Homo sapiens: one gene and its partner. The protein of the gene in region 1 binds, or shares a complex with, the protein of each later gene. Each region holds a gene or a part of one and is shown on either strand. Other genes may lie near its edges. A codon is read from its position in the direction of its gene.

Region 1 (7,924 bases):
CCTCTCTTGTTGGGTAATAATTTGTAAGTCATTGCAAGGAGAACACAAAACTGCTGCTGATTCTTTCCTTCTGTTACATACTTTGGTGGAAATGGACACATTGTCACTGCTTTTTTAAACTGTTGTAGCCAGATCTCAGGCATTCTCAGCATTGACCCCTTCCTGCTAGAGGATTTCCAAGGGTTGGTATCTGGGTGGCTCCAAGGTCCTTTGCGTTTTCAGTAGAGGGTATTCACTGTATCTAGGAACCCTTTCCTAGGCTTCAATAATTATCTTTTAATGGCTTGGTAAAATGGTGTTGAACTTAATCAGCAACACTGCTAAAAATTAGTTCAAAGAAAGCTTTTCAAGAAGGTTCCCCTTACTTATAAATTAAGTCCTCCATACCCCTTCTCAGATTGCTACAAAGGACCGCCAGAAATCATGTTGCTTGTTTCCTACCGAGAGAGGTCATCCCCATCAGGCTAGCGCTAGAGAAGAGGGTCAGCATCGGGAGCCTGGGAACAAGGGCAGAAGTGAGGGATGGGGAGGCAGCATTCTTACCTTTCCGGGCCTGCTGGATGTATCTTGCCAGCAGGGCGCCCAGGTGCGCTCGGGACTCGCCATCCGTTCTCTGCGATACCCTCAGCTGCCTACGGGGCGCCTCCTCTGCCCGCTGCAGCCCGGAGCCCGCGGGATCTGCGGGAGGCACCGGCTGCGTCAGGGCGCCAGCCGCCAGTACCGCCATCAGCACGCACAGGCACACGCCGCTGTTCATGGCTGTAGCGAGCAAAGGAGGAGGGCGCGTTAACTGAAAGGCTGGGCAACAGAGCTCCTGCGGCGGGCCGGGCACCCAGAAGCGGGCTTAGGACAAACACAGGTGCTCCAGACCCGCCAGGCCGCCGCAAGCACGAGGGCTCGCCAAGCGCTGACCCCAGCCGAGTGCCATGGCGCGCGCCCCCGGGCGCACCTGGCTGGTCTTTGGGAACTCCTCACCCAGCGCCAAGGGGCAGAGACCCTGTTTTCTGCCGTGTTGAGCAGAAGGAATGTTTTTGCTTTCCTAAAGTTTGAGGAAGTGTTTGCAGAGTGCCTCTCTTCTAACCGAAAGAAGAAAAATAAAACCCCACGAGATTAAAAATAGTGTGAAAAAAATATCCTAAAGGGAAGACTCCGTGGGAGAAATGAGAACCCTGGGGAAAGCACTTTTCCAGATAGCTAACAAGCTTTCAATATGGAAATACAGTAAATGATGAAAAAGAGAAGCACAGTTTAAAATGTAGGAGCAATAAATAAAGCCGTATTTATAAAGTTTTTCTCAAAGTGTACGTGGGAAATGGCAATAAGCCACTACGCAGAACATAGGCAGGTTTTAAAATCAGAAATATGTGCCCAGCGCTCAGGCTTCGAAAGCCCCGTGCATTTTAGATCGCTAGTGGATAAAACACCCTCAAGTTTCTATCCGTAAAGCCTCGAAATTTTCTGCAGTATTTAGAAAATGAATTTAAATCTTAAAACCCTCTAATATTTTATTAGAAAAGATTGCAAAGTCCCCCGCACCGCTGTGTAACAGCTAGCAAACTCAATCTGCATGCGAATCTTAGCGAATGGGTAGTTCATCCCTTAATGATGCTGGCGTATGAAAGGCTCTAAAGCAGCTCTACCCACCCAGACCTCACTTTTAGACCCAGAGCCGTTATTTCTGACTTCAAGAAATGTCTTTCGAGCTCTCGGAGGGAAGACACAGAAAATAGAAAAGCATAATGGAAATGGGCACAAAGCTGAAGACAGCATCCTTCAAAGACACACGACACTTGGATCCCCCGCTGACGAACCGAGGGACCTACCTTTTGGATTAGGACGCAGCTGGCTTGGCGTTTCCAACCGGAGCAGCCCGGCAGCTGAGCCAAGTTCAGGGAGGACCAGCGGGCGGCTGTCTCTTAAATAGCCCCACCCGGCGGCGTCGGCCAGTCATGTATTTACCCAACGCTGACGCAGACTGGCAGTAACACGTGCTCAGAGGGCGGCCACTGGGGCGACAACCGGTTGAAGTGGCTCCTGGGAGAGAGGGGGAGGTGGTCTAGTGGGGTGGAGTTAATCCCTCCCACGCGCGGTGCCGGGTGTCCGCCCCCTCTGGGTCCGAGAAGCTTCCGCCCAACCCTTTCCAGGTGCCGCTCCCCTGCGCATTCCAGAGCAGTACTCTCCAAGGTGGGAAACCTAGGAGTTTGGAGTCTCCTCCGGGATGGAGAAGCTGCCGCTAGCTTAGTTCGCTTTGGGGACCGGAGGGGCTAGAAAGGAAACTGGGGGCGGGGGTGGGGGGTGGACACTGGGCAGGACTGAGCATCAGCAAGGCGTGATTCTGAAAGGGAGGGGGCGTCGGCCCCCTACCCCGGAGCGTCCGAGGCGCTGGTCTTCATACCTGTGTCGGCTCTTTCGAAGGAGAGAGGAGGAGTCGGGGTCTTCACTTTCTTCTCAGCCGCATTAAAAGCCCTCGCAGTTCTCCAGGTTTCCGAGGGCCAGTGTTCTGGGTCAGTGAAAGGGCTCTGGCCACAGCTGGCTCTTGGTGTCCTGGGCCTCTCTTGACGCAGCTGTAAAATGCGGATGACACCATCTGGTTTTGCTCAGAGGAATCCGGTTTGGGAAAGGGATGTGTTTTCTTCCCGGGCCAAGTTACCACCACCCGCGGCGCCCACTGTTCCCCGTTGTCGACAAGCGGCGCCAGCGAGGGTCCTGGGGAACTTGACCACCGCACCCCCGCAAGCTCGGGTAGACCACGGCATCCGCCCCTCGCACCTTTCCTGAGGGCCCACACACTCACACCCCCAGGACAGTACCTTCCAGAACTCAGCTGCGCAGCCTGGAGGTGAGGACCTCACCCCTAGTCAGTCACCCGTCCGGTGGAGGGAAGGGAGGCACCGAGGCTGCCGTGCGCCTTTCCCTGCACGCGGTTACTCTCCCGGCTCCGGAGCGGGCCGACCTGGAGCCCCTCAGTGCGCTCTGGTCGTCTACACCCTGAAACCCTTTGAGTTCGAGTCCGCTTGCTGGTGCTTGAGTTCGCCGCGTCCCTGCAAAGGCACTGCCAACCCCATTTCACAGACCGCAAACCGAGGCGCGAGGAAGAGCAGCGCCTTGCCAAGGCTCCACAACACGCCCCTCGCCCTCTCCGTGCACCGAGGCCGCCCAGCCTGGGACCTGGAGATCACCAGGCCTTGAACCTTGGGACCTCAACTCCTCTCCCTTTCTTTCCCCCACCCGTCTTAGATGCAAGGAGAAAGATTTAGAAGCGCTTATTTTAAAATCGGAATCCGTATTCCGCTCTGGAATTCCCTCTGGAATGGAGGGACTGTGGCAACGCCAGTGTGAGGGTGGAGTGGGCGAGGCGGGGTGGGGGGGTTGGGGGGGCGGCCCAGAGACGCCTCCGGTTGCTGCTCCACTTTCTAATCCTGAGAGGCAGCTGCGTTTCTGCAACCTATGGGCAACATGTTTGAAAGAGCTGAAGCTGATTAAATGCTTTCCAGTGGTTTCGCCACGAGCCTGCTAAGGTTTGTGTAGTTCAGTTGCGAAAAAGAGTCTTATTTGTGATTGTGGCAAGACATGTCTGGAAACATAAACTTGTTATCGAAATACCCCCAGAGCTTCTAATTCAGTAGGTCTGAGGAAGGGCCCAAGAATCCGAATTCCTTCCTTCCTTCCTTCCTTCCTTCCTTCCTTCCTTCCTTCCTTTCTTCCTCCTTCCCTCCTTCCCTCCCTCCCTCCCTTCCTTCCTCCCTCCCTCCCTCCCTTCCTCCCTCCTTCCCTCCCTCTCTCCCCTTCCCTCTTTCCCTCTCTCCCTTCCTTCCTTCCTTCCTTCCTTCCTTCCTTCCTTCCTTCCCTCCCTCCTTCCTTCCTTCCTTCCCCCCTCCCTCCCTCCGTCTCTCCTTCTCCCTCTTTCCCTCTTTCTCTCTCTCTTTCTTTCTTTCTTCTTTATTTCTTTCTTTCTTTCTTCATTTCCTTCCTTCCTTCCTTCCTTCCTTCCTTCCTTCCTTCCTTCCTTCCTTCCTTTCCTTGCCTTTCCTTCTTTGAGACAGAGTCTCACTCTGTCGCCCAGGCTGGAGTACAGTGGCATGATCTCGGCTCACTGCAACCTCTGCCTCCCAGGTTCAAACGATTCTCCTGCCTCAGCCTCCCCAGCGGCTGGGATTACAGGCATGTGCAGCCATGCCTGGCTAATTTTTATATTTTTAGTAGAGACAAGGGTTCACCATGTTGGCTAGGTTGGTCTCGAACTTCTGACCTCAGGTGATCTACCCACCTTGGCCTCCCAAAATGCTGGGACTACAGGCGTGAGCCACCACGCCCCACCAAGAATCTACATTTCTAACAAGTTCCCAGGCCATACTGAAAATGCTAGTCCGCCAAGCACACTTTGAGATCATTTCTATAGAAATTCCCTACCTTATACCAGTTACTCAACTCCTGGCCTTGATCCATTTAATTCATGTTTATTCAACACTTACTTTGTGCCAGGCCCCAGGGATTCAGTATGAACAAGAGCTGACAATACAATAGGGGAGCTGAAGCAAACAAGTGGACAAACACTTCTCAACAATTCTGATATTTGGGGACTATGGAGTGGAGATGGTAGGAGGTAATCTTGGAGAAATGTTTTGGTGAGGGGAGCTAGGTGGTAATATGGAAGATGCCCAAAAGGCAGAGGGACTGGAAGGGGAGGGCTGGATAGGAGGCCCTCGGGGATGGGCAAGCAGGAACAATCAAGGTAGATTTGTTTTAGAATAATAAGCCATTATGAAACCCATTAATTATTAGGAAACATAATAAACATTATGCAAGTCATAAGTGTTCATCAGAGAACATTCAGAAAACAAAAGTAGAGAAAAGAAGAAAAATTCCAGCCTCCCAGGGAACAACCTGTTGCTGCTCAGGAAACTGGTAGAGGGAACCGGACTTGGTGACTGAGACTGACCTTGAGTTTCCAGGCTGGGAGACAAGGGTGGGTGGTAGAGTATTATCCAAGACAGGGAATTCAGAAGGAAAAGCAGGCTTGGAGTGTGGCCGTGGTGGTAGTGGGCCAGTGGGGAGCGGGTAATGAGTCCAGTATGGGATTGGTTGATCGTTTGTGCATTGACAGTCTAGGAGGAGTTTGGGAGCCTTTGTCCTGAGCAGAGAGACACTGGAGGGGTGGACCCAGAGTCTGGCATGTGGGTGGTGGCTGCCAGCCTGGGAGTTATAGGGAGAGTTGAGGAAGGCAGCTAGCAATGGGTGGCAGGGTGCCTCTAGACAGACCGCTGAGGAGTGACAGCGTGAAGGAGTGGGTGGAGGAAAAAGAGCTGGTACAGAACCAGACAAGTGGGCCAAGGAGGCCAGCGTGGAAATGCCAGTGCAGAGCCAGAGGTGACAGGGACCATCAGAAGCTGAAGAAGGGCTTGTGCATGGGCCTTTCTCATTTACGATCAAGAGAGCTGCTTGCCTCTTTATTGTAAAATAAAGCAGTTGTAGCCGCTTGTCTCTCAGGAGTGGAAATTCTGAGCAGGAAATGTGTGATAGAAGAGCTGCTAGGAAAATAGAAAGACATAAGGGATCTGAACTCCTTGGCCATAGTCATGATTTTTCCTTCTTACAGGGTCAACAGGTACTAATTATTCTGACTATGGTTCCTAAGCAAGTTAGGCCTGGAGCCGACACTATTCCTGTAATCCAGATGCATATCCGCATTAAAGATAATCCATTTGTTCACTTAAAAAAATGGGCTTGATGTCTCCTGAGGCAGATGCCTTTGGTGCTCCTCACCACAGTTCCACGTTCTCCCTCTGGCTTCAGCTGCAGCCTAGCCAGGCTGGGCAGTTTTCAGCAGACAGCATTCCCACTTCAAGCTTTCAAAGCACCCCTCTTGGCTTATCTCCTTCAAAGTTCAGCCCTTGCAGAGGTTCAGCCTGTAAGTTTGGGTGTTATCTCCCCGAAAGACAATCTTCAGCCAGTGGGGAATGGGAACCCCAGTCTCTCTGTATGAACCCTTCTGGAAGCTTCTAAAGACTTCTCAACGGTCCTTTGCCTGTATCGGTGAACTTGATAACAGCTCTCTCTCTCTTTTTTTTTTCTCTCTCTCTCTCCCTCTCTCTCTTTAGACAGGGTCTTACTCCGTCACCCAGGCTGGAGTGCAGTGGTGCAAACCCGGCTTCCTGGCTTAAACAATCTTCCCACTTCAGCCTCCTGAGTAGCTGGGAACACAGGTGCACACCACCATACTCTGCTAATACTTTAATTTTTTGTAGAGACAGGGTCTCACCATGTTGCCTAGGCTTGTCTCAAATTCCTAGGCTCAAGTAATCCTCCCTTCTCAGTCTCCCAAAGTGTTGGGATTACAAGTGTGAGCCACCAAGCCCAGCTGATAACATCTCTTTAGTTGTTTTTTCCTCCTTCTTTGTCTTACTCTTCTCATTTCTTCCTCCTCTCCCAAATAAACGACATGTACTCAAGTCTGTCTAATTTTAGTATAACCCTATCAAAGACACCAACTGTCTTTCGGGCACTGTTGGGATTCAGTGGTGAGCAAGACAGACAAAATCCCTGTGCTTGTGATGCTTCCATTCTAGTGGAGGAGACAGACAATTTAAAAAATACACAGCAGGCATGGAAGGTGCACACATGTTTTCAAGAAAAGTAGAGTAGGGGGAGGGTCTGTGGAGGACTGGGCACCCGCATGAACGTATGCAAACCACTGCTGGGGGATGCCCTGTTAGGCTGTCTGCTGTGTAGACCTTGCTATGTATGTACATTATGGAGAAATGGTTTTGCTTTTCAGTCCAAATAGAGAAAAAGGAAGTTGTATGGGAGTTCGCACTGTTTGGAGATTGTTTTGTATTTCATCAAATGTGAGACGGTAACTAACTTTTCTGCCAAGCTCATTCTCTTGTCTCAGAAAAGGAATGGAAAAGGCAGTGCCCTCTGTGTCCTTCCCACCACCACCCACTCTTCCCCATCATGGAATGAGACGCACCAGCTGGTCCCTGCCTTTATCTGGAGGACTGAGAGTGGAGGGTGCCATATCCAGATGCCGCGTTGGAAAGGAAATAGTGGAGAGAGGAAACCTGTGACTGTTCACTGGTTTGGAGTCTAGAAATTCCCATCTGATTGCGGTGAAATGAATTTAAGTAAGATCTTGCTCAGAGTTGGGGAGGTATCCCCGAAGATTAGTTCCTGAAACAGATATATTTTCAATACACGATTTTTTTAGTCATGAGACCTAGCTCAAAGACATATGTCAATTTTGTATGTGTAGAAAACTTAGTGGAATTTCCAGGGACATGCTAGAGCCTCCTGATTTATTATTCATAGAATTTAAGCTTGTTACAAGCAAGCCCCACTTACCAGAAGGCAGGAGGCTATTTGCTGTGATCAGAAACGTGATGGTTAGAAGGCTTCTTTTTTGGGTCTTTTTTTTTCCTGAACATGTATTAAAATATTATTATTTGTCCTGGAATTTTTCAAAGTCCACATAGCCAATATCATCTGCCAATATCTGGAATGATTAGACTGAAAAAAGGGAAGTAACTATGGTCATGGTGAAGTGTTTCCTTTTCCTAACGATGAATTTCTTTAGAATATCTTGTCATAGTTTGGGTTCCTACAAAAGCAGAGCCTGGGACAGCACCTGGTTACAGGTAATTTATTTGAGAGTGATTCCAAGGGAGCAGGAGTAAGGGAGAAGGGAAGAGAGAAGACAGTGAAGTATTGAGTACAGTGGATGACTGCTGTGGACCCAATCCCCTGGGGACTCTCTGAGATACCTCTTGGAACATGGCTCATAGCCAGCCTACTTGAGGCCAGAAGGAGAGCCGGAGCACCAACTCCCATTTCCCATTAGTTGAGGGCTGTTCCAGCAGGTGTTAGCTCCCTCTCACTTCCAAATAGGCTTACCTGCTCCTGCAGAGCCAGAGAAAGCCCTCAGGCA
Region 2 (7,154 bases), on another chromosome or scaffold:
CTTTTCTCTTTAGAAATGCTAAATTCAAGGCTGGGTGTGGTGGGTCTTGCCTATAATCCCAGCACTTTGGGAGGCCAAGGTGGGAGGATCACTTGAGCCCAGGAGTTTGAGACCAGCCTGGGCAACATAGTGAAACCCCATCTTTACAAAACAAACTACAAACAAACAAACAGCTAGCCAGATGGTAGCACATGCCTGTAATCCCAGCTACTATGGAGGCTGAGGTGGGAGGATCACCTGAGCCCAGGAGGCAGAGTTTGCAATAAGCTGAGATGGCACCACTGCATTTCAGCCTGGGTGACAGAGCCAGACCCAGTCTCAAAAAAAAAAAAAAAAAAAAAAAAAAAAAGAAAAGAAAAGAAGTAAGTATTAAGTTCAAACTTCCATCTTTCAGACATTGCTTATGCTATTCTGATGACAACTAGCTTATGACTCCGAATGTTCTTGGCCAACCTGAAGATGAAGAAATCAGGCTGCTGTCGTACCCAGGACAAAATGGCCAGAGAGGGTTTGCTTCCTGTTCCCTTTGTGGTCACAATGAGGTGGAAGGCTACAGCGGATACATGATAGGGTGATGGGCTCCCTGCAGGCAGAGCAACCGCCACAATTCTGCATGAGCAGAAAAAGCAGAGCATGGAAATGTGTCACAGGAGGAGTGAGAGCCCACCTTGGATGTTCTAGAAGGTTTGAAAGCTCAGTAGGCCCCACATCTCCGTTTTGAACATGTGCTGGCAACTCCATTTGCAGTATGAGCCCTGCTGGACTCCCGTCCCTGGCCTGCTGAGGATTTTCTGATGGTGAGTGTTACTTAACATATCCTGCTTTGAACTGCCTAGAAACCAATCATGGCCCCACTGGAGCAGTGCTCTGGAATCCAGATGAAGGATGAAAAGCAGACCTTGAAGAGTTCCCACTGGAGATGGAGCCTTCCTTCTCCATCAGCTCTGCTCCTTCTCTTCCTGATCTCTTCTTCCGTTCTTTCTTCTCTGCCTCCTCCCTGCCTTCCTTCTGCGGTGGAGGGTCAGGGGACATCTCACTGGGGTGGCACCGAGGCACTCATATGGCTGTACGAGAACCTGGACAGAGAGGCTCCTGTGGTCCCGCCTTCCTCCTCCTCCCCCACCTCTCCCCTCGCCCCTGGGGGACCAGGATTGGGGCAGCAGGGGAAGGTGGCCATGAAGCCGAGGCGGAAGCGTTTGTTCATGAAGCAGTAGATGATGGGGTTGACGCAGGAGGAGGTGTAGGACAGGAGGAGGATGAAGGAAATGGGGGTTCCTGAGAGGCGGCGCTCTGCGGAGGCGGTGTCGTAGGCCCGCCAGGCGTTGGCGCTGAAGATGGGCATCCAGCACAGGAAGAAGAGGACCACGATGACGATGAGCATGCGGATCACCCTTTTCTTGGCCATCAGGTTGGCTGCGGAGCTGTTACTCCGGATGCGGTTGGCCCTGCTGCTGCTGCCGGTGGACAGCTGCCGGAGCTCCAGCTTCCTCGGGGGCCTGGTCTTTTGCAGGTAACACCCATCGCTGTCCTCATATTTGCCGCTGCTGGTGGTGCTAGGTTTCCTTTCTGGGTGGGCAAGAGACATCACTCATTGCTGGGGATGGGTCATGCCCGGTAGAAGGCATGGAGCCCCCACTCCCCTCCATCAAGAAGTCCAAACCAAACAGGAACTGAGAAATGGCAGACAACCTGGCCTTACACTGATATGGGTAAGCATTGATCTATACTAGTTCTTCCCTTCAATGAAATGCTGCTTAAAATGAATAAAATATATAATAAAAACAACATCTTATGGATGTAGGTTACAAGAAAAAAATTATTAAAGAATGAATATTCACACTCTTCTCCTTTCCTTCATTAGCTCCCCAGAGGGAAGGTTCCTGCTTGCTGGGTAAGATTCCAGATTGCTTTTATGATGAGGAATCTGGATAAGAAGAAAAAATCCCATGAAAACCAAAGAAGCTAGAGAGACTCAGTTATCTGTGTAGTAGACAGCTGAGTTAGGGCATGGAGTGAGAAGGGAAAAGCTATGTCAACAAGGGTGTCAAGGTCAATTTTCATGGACAGTGGATTGTAATGAATGGAGAAGGAATGAGGCTTTGTGGCCACTGCAGGGTGAAAATAAAAAGGAGAGAGGATGAGGAGGAGACAACAAAAAGCCGGCTGTGGGTTAGGAATCAAATCCCCTCCAGTACCTTTGGAGAGACACAAAACAGGCTGGAATTACAAGTAGCTCTGGTTATGGAAAGGGGTCTGTTTGAATACAGCACTACAGAACAGCTGGCACAGAAAAGGCCTTGGCTTGTTATTGGGTTATATGTGGGTTACTTTATTCCACTCAGAATGCTTTTGAAAGGAATGATTTCCCCATTTTACAGATAAGAAAATGAAATACTGGGCCCGTGACTGTGCTTCTTGACACAGAATCTCATAAGAATACTTAAAAGCTTTTCCAACAAACTTTACGTACACTCTGGGTATATCTATTTAAATGATAGAAAACAAGCTTTTGTGCTCATTTGGCATAAACACACAGCTACAAGATAGTTACCTTTAGCAGACTTCTTCTGGCTAGCCTCAAATTTTATTCCCTGGTAGAGTTCCAAAGAGATTAATCCATATGCCACCATCATCACAATTCCAGGAATAAGAAAGAGGATGAGTAACAGGAATGTGTGCCTAATGAAATCAAAAGAAATCCAATAACCAGCAACTTTAGACCTTCAAACTCAAATGGGAAGGAATGAATAGGGTTTATGTTTATTTTTACTGGCCTGAGCAAACACATTAATTACTAGTATTTAATATCCTTGGCAACTTCATGTCTGGAGATTCAGTCATTATAAGTTGTTTACTTCTTTTCTTTTTTTAGATGAAGTCTCTGATGAAGGACTAGTTTAATTGGAAAAGTTTGGCGTAATTCTGTGCTTGAAAGAAGTCTATGTATGAAAAAGAATGTAAGCTTTAAAAAATAAGAGTATGTGAATAGCATTTCAATAAAGCTGTTTTAAAAACCCTTAAAAATTACTTACATACATCGAGGATTTCTATGTGCTACATATAGGCTAAGCATTTTACATACATCACTACATTTAACTCTCATAATAACCATTGAGGTAGGTGCTATTGTCTTAATACCTACAGCAGAGAGGAGGAAACTGAGACTTAAAGAGATTAAATAATTTGTCCAAAGTCACACAGCTGGTAGCAGAGGTGGAATTTGAACCCCCAAAATATGATTCCAGAACCTAGAAGCTATGCTTTTAAGCATCACGGTATACCATTTGCCAAACAACAGAGTAATCAAATGCTTAGGTGGGGACAATGGAAAACCTTCTGGGTCTTACAAAACATGCCATTCTGGCTGTTTCCAACCCATAAGCAGCTCAAACATTTACGTGGGCGTCCATTCTCCATGACCCTGTGAGGCTAGCATAGTGGCATCATCATTCTAGTGCCTGGTTGGGTAGAGCTATGCTTTTTCTAAACATCTTTGATTACTGAAGAATCACAGCCTCCTTCTTTATGAGTCTGGCCCCTAAATCACTTCTGCAGTCTGGCATGTGTGAGGTTACACGATTAGGCCATAAAATTGTCAGAGGCTCATGGTGGCTGGGCCATTTCTCACTTCAATTTGACATGTTTTGATAAGATTCCTTTTCAAGCCTTGGAAATATTCCTCTCATTTGCAACGTAATTCCTTTGTGTGTGTGCTACTTGGTTGAAATGAAAGGAGGAAAGCAAAAAAAGCAGAGATGATCTCAGTTTGGGGCTGTTACTCAATGTCTAGTTCCCTGCTTCTAAAACATCCCTGCAATTGGTAAATATAATACCCTGCAATTTGTGTAGCCTTTTTTATAATGACATTTTTATGAACATACTCTCCTTGGTATCTTACAGCCACCCAATGAGGTAGATTTTTAAAATATCCACATTGTTAACTCCTTATAGAGATAAGGAACCTGACGTTCAGAGAGCTTATGTGAATTTGCCTAAGGTGTGCAGTTAGTAAGCAAAGGAACCAGTATTAGAAACTTGCGTTTTTATTTCTGGTAAAATGCTCTGGGTAAGTACCGGAGCTGCTGCAGCTCTAAGAAAAACCATGTGGGATTTGGGACTCATTCCCTGCTCTGTCTTAATTCTTTAGAAAATCATTGCCAGCTGCAGTGGCTCATGCCTGTAATTCCAGCACTTTGGGAGGCCAAGGCGGGAGGATCACTTGAGCCTAAGAATTCAAGACCAGCCTAGGCAATATAGTGAGACCCAATCTCTATTTTAAAGTAAAGATTTTATTAAATAAAAGAAGGCCGGGCGCGGTGGCTCATGCCTGTAATCCCAGTACTTTGGGAGGTCGAGGCGGGTGGATAACCTGAGGTCAGGAGTTCGAAACCAGCCTGACCAACATGGAGAAACCCCACCTCTAATAAAAATGCAAAAAAATTAGCCGGGCATGGTGGTGCATGCCTGTAATCCCAGCTACTCAGGAGGCTGAGGCAGGAGAATTGCTTGAACCCGGGAGGTCGAGGTTGTGGTGAGCCGAGGTCACACCATTGCACTCCAGCCTGGGCAACAAGAGCAAAATTCCGTCTCAAAAAAAAAAAAAAAGAAAGAAAAAGAAAGAAAATCATAGCTCTACAATTAATCAGCCTAACCCTCCACTACAGCATTTAGAAGCATACTGCATAATGATTAAGCACAGAGCCTCTGCCTCTTCCTTAAGTTTGTGAATTGGGAAACTTAACCTTTCCAAGTCTCAGTTTCCTCAACAGCAAAACGGACACAATAATAATAATACCTATCTTAGAGTGTTTTCAGAGGATTGATTGAATGAATATATGCATGGCATTTAAAACAGAGCTCGCCAGCTAAGTGTTTGCTATCGTGATTATCCTAGAACGAGGCTAGAAAGACCTTCTCAAAACGTCTCCAGGAAACTGATCCCCCAACCACTCTGGGCAAGGCATCTCAGTTTTTCATGATATTGCAAAATTACATCAAGCTGTATTTTTAAAAATAAACAATGCAACCTTACCAGGACTGCTGCATAACATCATTTGGCAGTAGAAAGCGGCACATATTCGCGGTCTGGTTGTTATTTTTGGTAAAAGGCACCAAGTTGCTATAAATGGGGTACGGAGTCATGATGGTAAAGGAAAGGCACCAGGTAGCAGCAATCACCTTCAAAGCATGGGATTTTGTCTGCCAGACCCGGGACTGTAAGGGTTTGCAAATCGCACCATATCTCTCTAGAGATATGGCTACCAGATTAAAGGTAGATACACTCACAGAGGTGCCTGGGAAAGGAACAAAGAAGCCGGTTATGTTGACTCTGAAATCCAAAGTTTATTTGCACATTAGCTTGAATATATCTGATCTGCACAGGTTTGATATCAAAGGAAAACGCTTGGAAGGTAAAGAAATATTGTGTATGTATATTTTTAAAAGATGATTTATTCTCAGCTTTGTTCCAGAAAGGGTTTAAGGCAGTTAAAGAAATGGCTTTGTAAATATATCTCATTGCCAATTTTTAATAAGTTTATTGAGCTTTGATTATCACCTAACACCTGCTTAGGCTCAAGGTGCTCATTAATTAATAACCAAGGGGATGAAATTCATTCTTGCCCCCACAGAAGAGGTTTCTCTAAAATCTGAAGAAAAGCTGTAATTTTGAGTATCGTCTGCATAGTTAAAATGATTTTTAAAACCCGAGATTCTCAAGGGCTCTGTGACCCTGAAAGGTCACTGTGATGTGAGCCGGAGGCATGAAGGTTTTTTCTAAAAATTTTGAGTACATACTGTTCTTAATAGTGAAACAATCTATATTTCAAAATGCAGCTTGTTGAAAAAATAAGTAGTAAAAAAGACGAGGGAAAATGCCCCATACAGTAACTAAAGGTTTCTCTGGGTTGGGGACTAAAGTCTCTTGTCTTATTGTTTTTGTTTTTCTGTATTTTGTAGAATGAGCAAGCATCACCATTACAGTGAGGAAGATATTAAATGCACCTCATTTAAAATCATGTATTTCTTGGCTGGGTGCAGTGGCTGATGCCTGTAATACCAACGCTTTGGGAGTCCGAGGCAGGCAGATCACTTGAGGTCAGGAGCTTGAGACCAGCCTGGCCAACATGGTGAAACCCCATCTCTACTACAAATACAAAAATTAACCAGGCATGGCTGCACGTGCCTGTAATCCCAGGTACTTGGAAGGCTGAGGCAGAAGAATCGCTGGAATCTGGGAGGCCAAGGTTGTAGTGAGCCAAGATCGCACCACTGCACCCCAGCCTGGGCGACAGAGCGGCACTCCATCTCAAAAATAAAATAAAATAAATCATGTACTTCTTGGTCTTAGATGGCCTATGGAAAAAAAATTAAAATAAAAAATGAACAAAATCATGTGCTTCGGCATTGCCCAAAAAGCTTAACTTCCATTATTTTTGTATTTGTATATGCATACTTATTAAAATGTCCTATTATTCCCTTAAAATTCCCTGTAGAGTCCTTCTGCTATAAATTCTGTCAATTCTTCTGAATATCTCTTACCAAGATTTCTTAAACCTCAGAATTAATATAAATTTGGGAGCAGAGGTCCTGAAACTGGGGTCCTTAGATTCTCCTTATTCTTATGGATATAAACTAATTCTCTGAAACTATATCCAAAAATGTCATTTTTCTAGGGAGCCTAGCTCTAGCTTTCCTTAGAGTCTTAAAAAAGTCTATGACCCCCAAACCATTAACTAAAAACTCATGTTCTGGGGATAGGATTTGCTGTGTTTTACTGGATTTTACTCTAAAGAGTTGATGACATTTAGAGTGAAGAGTACGGCCCAAAAATCTCTAAGACTCAGTTCTGCATAATGGATCATCAATAACTATAAACTCACTGGCAGGCAAGCATTCTTTTTCTTTTTGCTACAAATTAGGAGCTAATGAATGTTAATTATTAGTATTGAGGAGACTGCAAAATTAAGAGAAGAGCCTAAATTATTGGAATTAAAAATCCAACAAAATTATTATGGTATTGCAAATACTTTCAGAATGATGTTGCTTTTCTTTTGCCCAATAAAATATTTTTTATGCAGTTGAAATTTACATAACATAAAATTAACCTCATTTCAAACTGAACAACTCTGTGGCACTCACAATGTTTTGCCACC

What was found.
Region 2: the proteins of CCK (region 1) and CCKAR are in contact, whole or in part, in a cryo-EM structure (PDB 7MBX), measured with the Homo sapiens proteins. Residues at the interface, in NP_000720.1 of Homo sapiens: Asp96, Tyr97, Met98, Gly99, Trp100, Met101, Asp102, Phe103; in NP_000721.1 of Homo sapiens: Cys94, Phe97, Asn98, Pro101, Asn102, Lys105, Asp106, Phe107, Thr118, Met121, Gly122, Val125 (codon at 5,286), Tyr176 (codon at 5,133), Phe185 (codon at 5,106), Asn194 (codon at 5,079), Met195 (codon at 5,076), Cys196 (codon at 5,073), Arg197 (codon at 5,070), Phe198 (codon at 5,067), His210 (codon at 2,678), Leu213 (codon at 2,669), Leu217 (codon at 2,657), Ile329 (codon at 1,336), Phe330 (codon at 1,333), Ala332 (codon at 1,327), Asn333 (codon at 1,324), Arg336 (codon at 1,315), Ala343 (codon at 1,294), Glu344 (codon at 1,291), Leu347 (codon at 1,282).

Annotation. Positions count from the first base shown.
Region 1 is NC_000003.12:42,262,874-42,270,797, forward strand, and holds the start of CCK (cholecystokinin preproprotein), read right to left. Parts: upstream 3,313-7,924; 5' UTR 2,811-3,312; intron 2,565-2,810; 5' UTR 2,396-2,564; intron 2,035-2,395; 5' UTR 1,824-2,034; intron 1,075-1,823; exon of another isoform or gene 950-1,074; intron 760-949; 5' UTR 758-759; coding exon 544-757; intron 1-543. UniProt on the Homo sapiens protein: This peptide hormone induces gall bladder contraction and the release of pancreatic enzymes in the gut. Its function in the brain is not clear.
Region 2 is NC_000004.12:26,480,605-26,487,758, forward strand, and holds the end of CCKAR (cholecystokinin receptor type A), read right to left. Parts: intron 5,295-7,154; coding exon 5,033-5,294; intron 2,680-5,032; coding exon 2,552-2,679; intron 1,567-2,551; coding exon 1,034-1,566; 3' UTR 792-1,033; downstream 1-791. UniProt on the Homo sapiens protein: Receptor for cholecystokinin. Mediates pancreatic growth and enzyme secretion, smooth muscle contraction of the gall bladder and stomach. Has a 1000-fold higher affinity for CCK rather than for gastrin.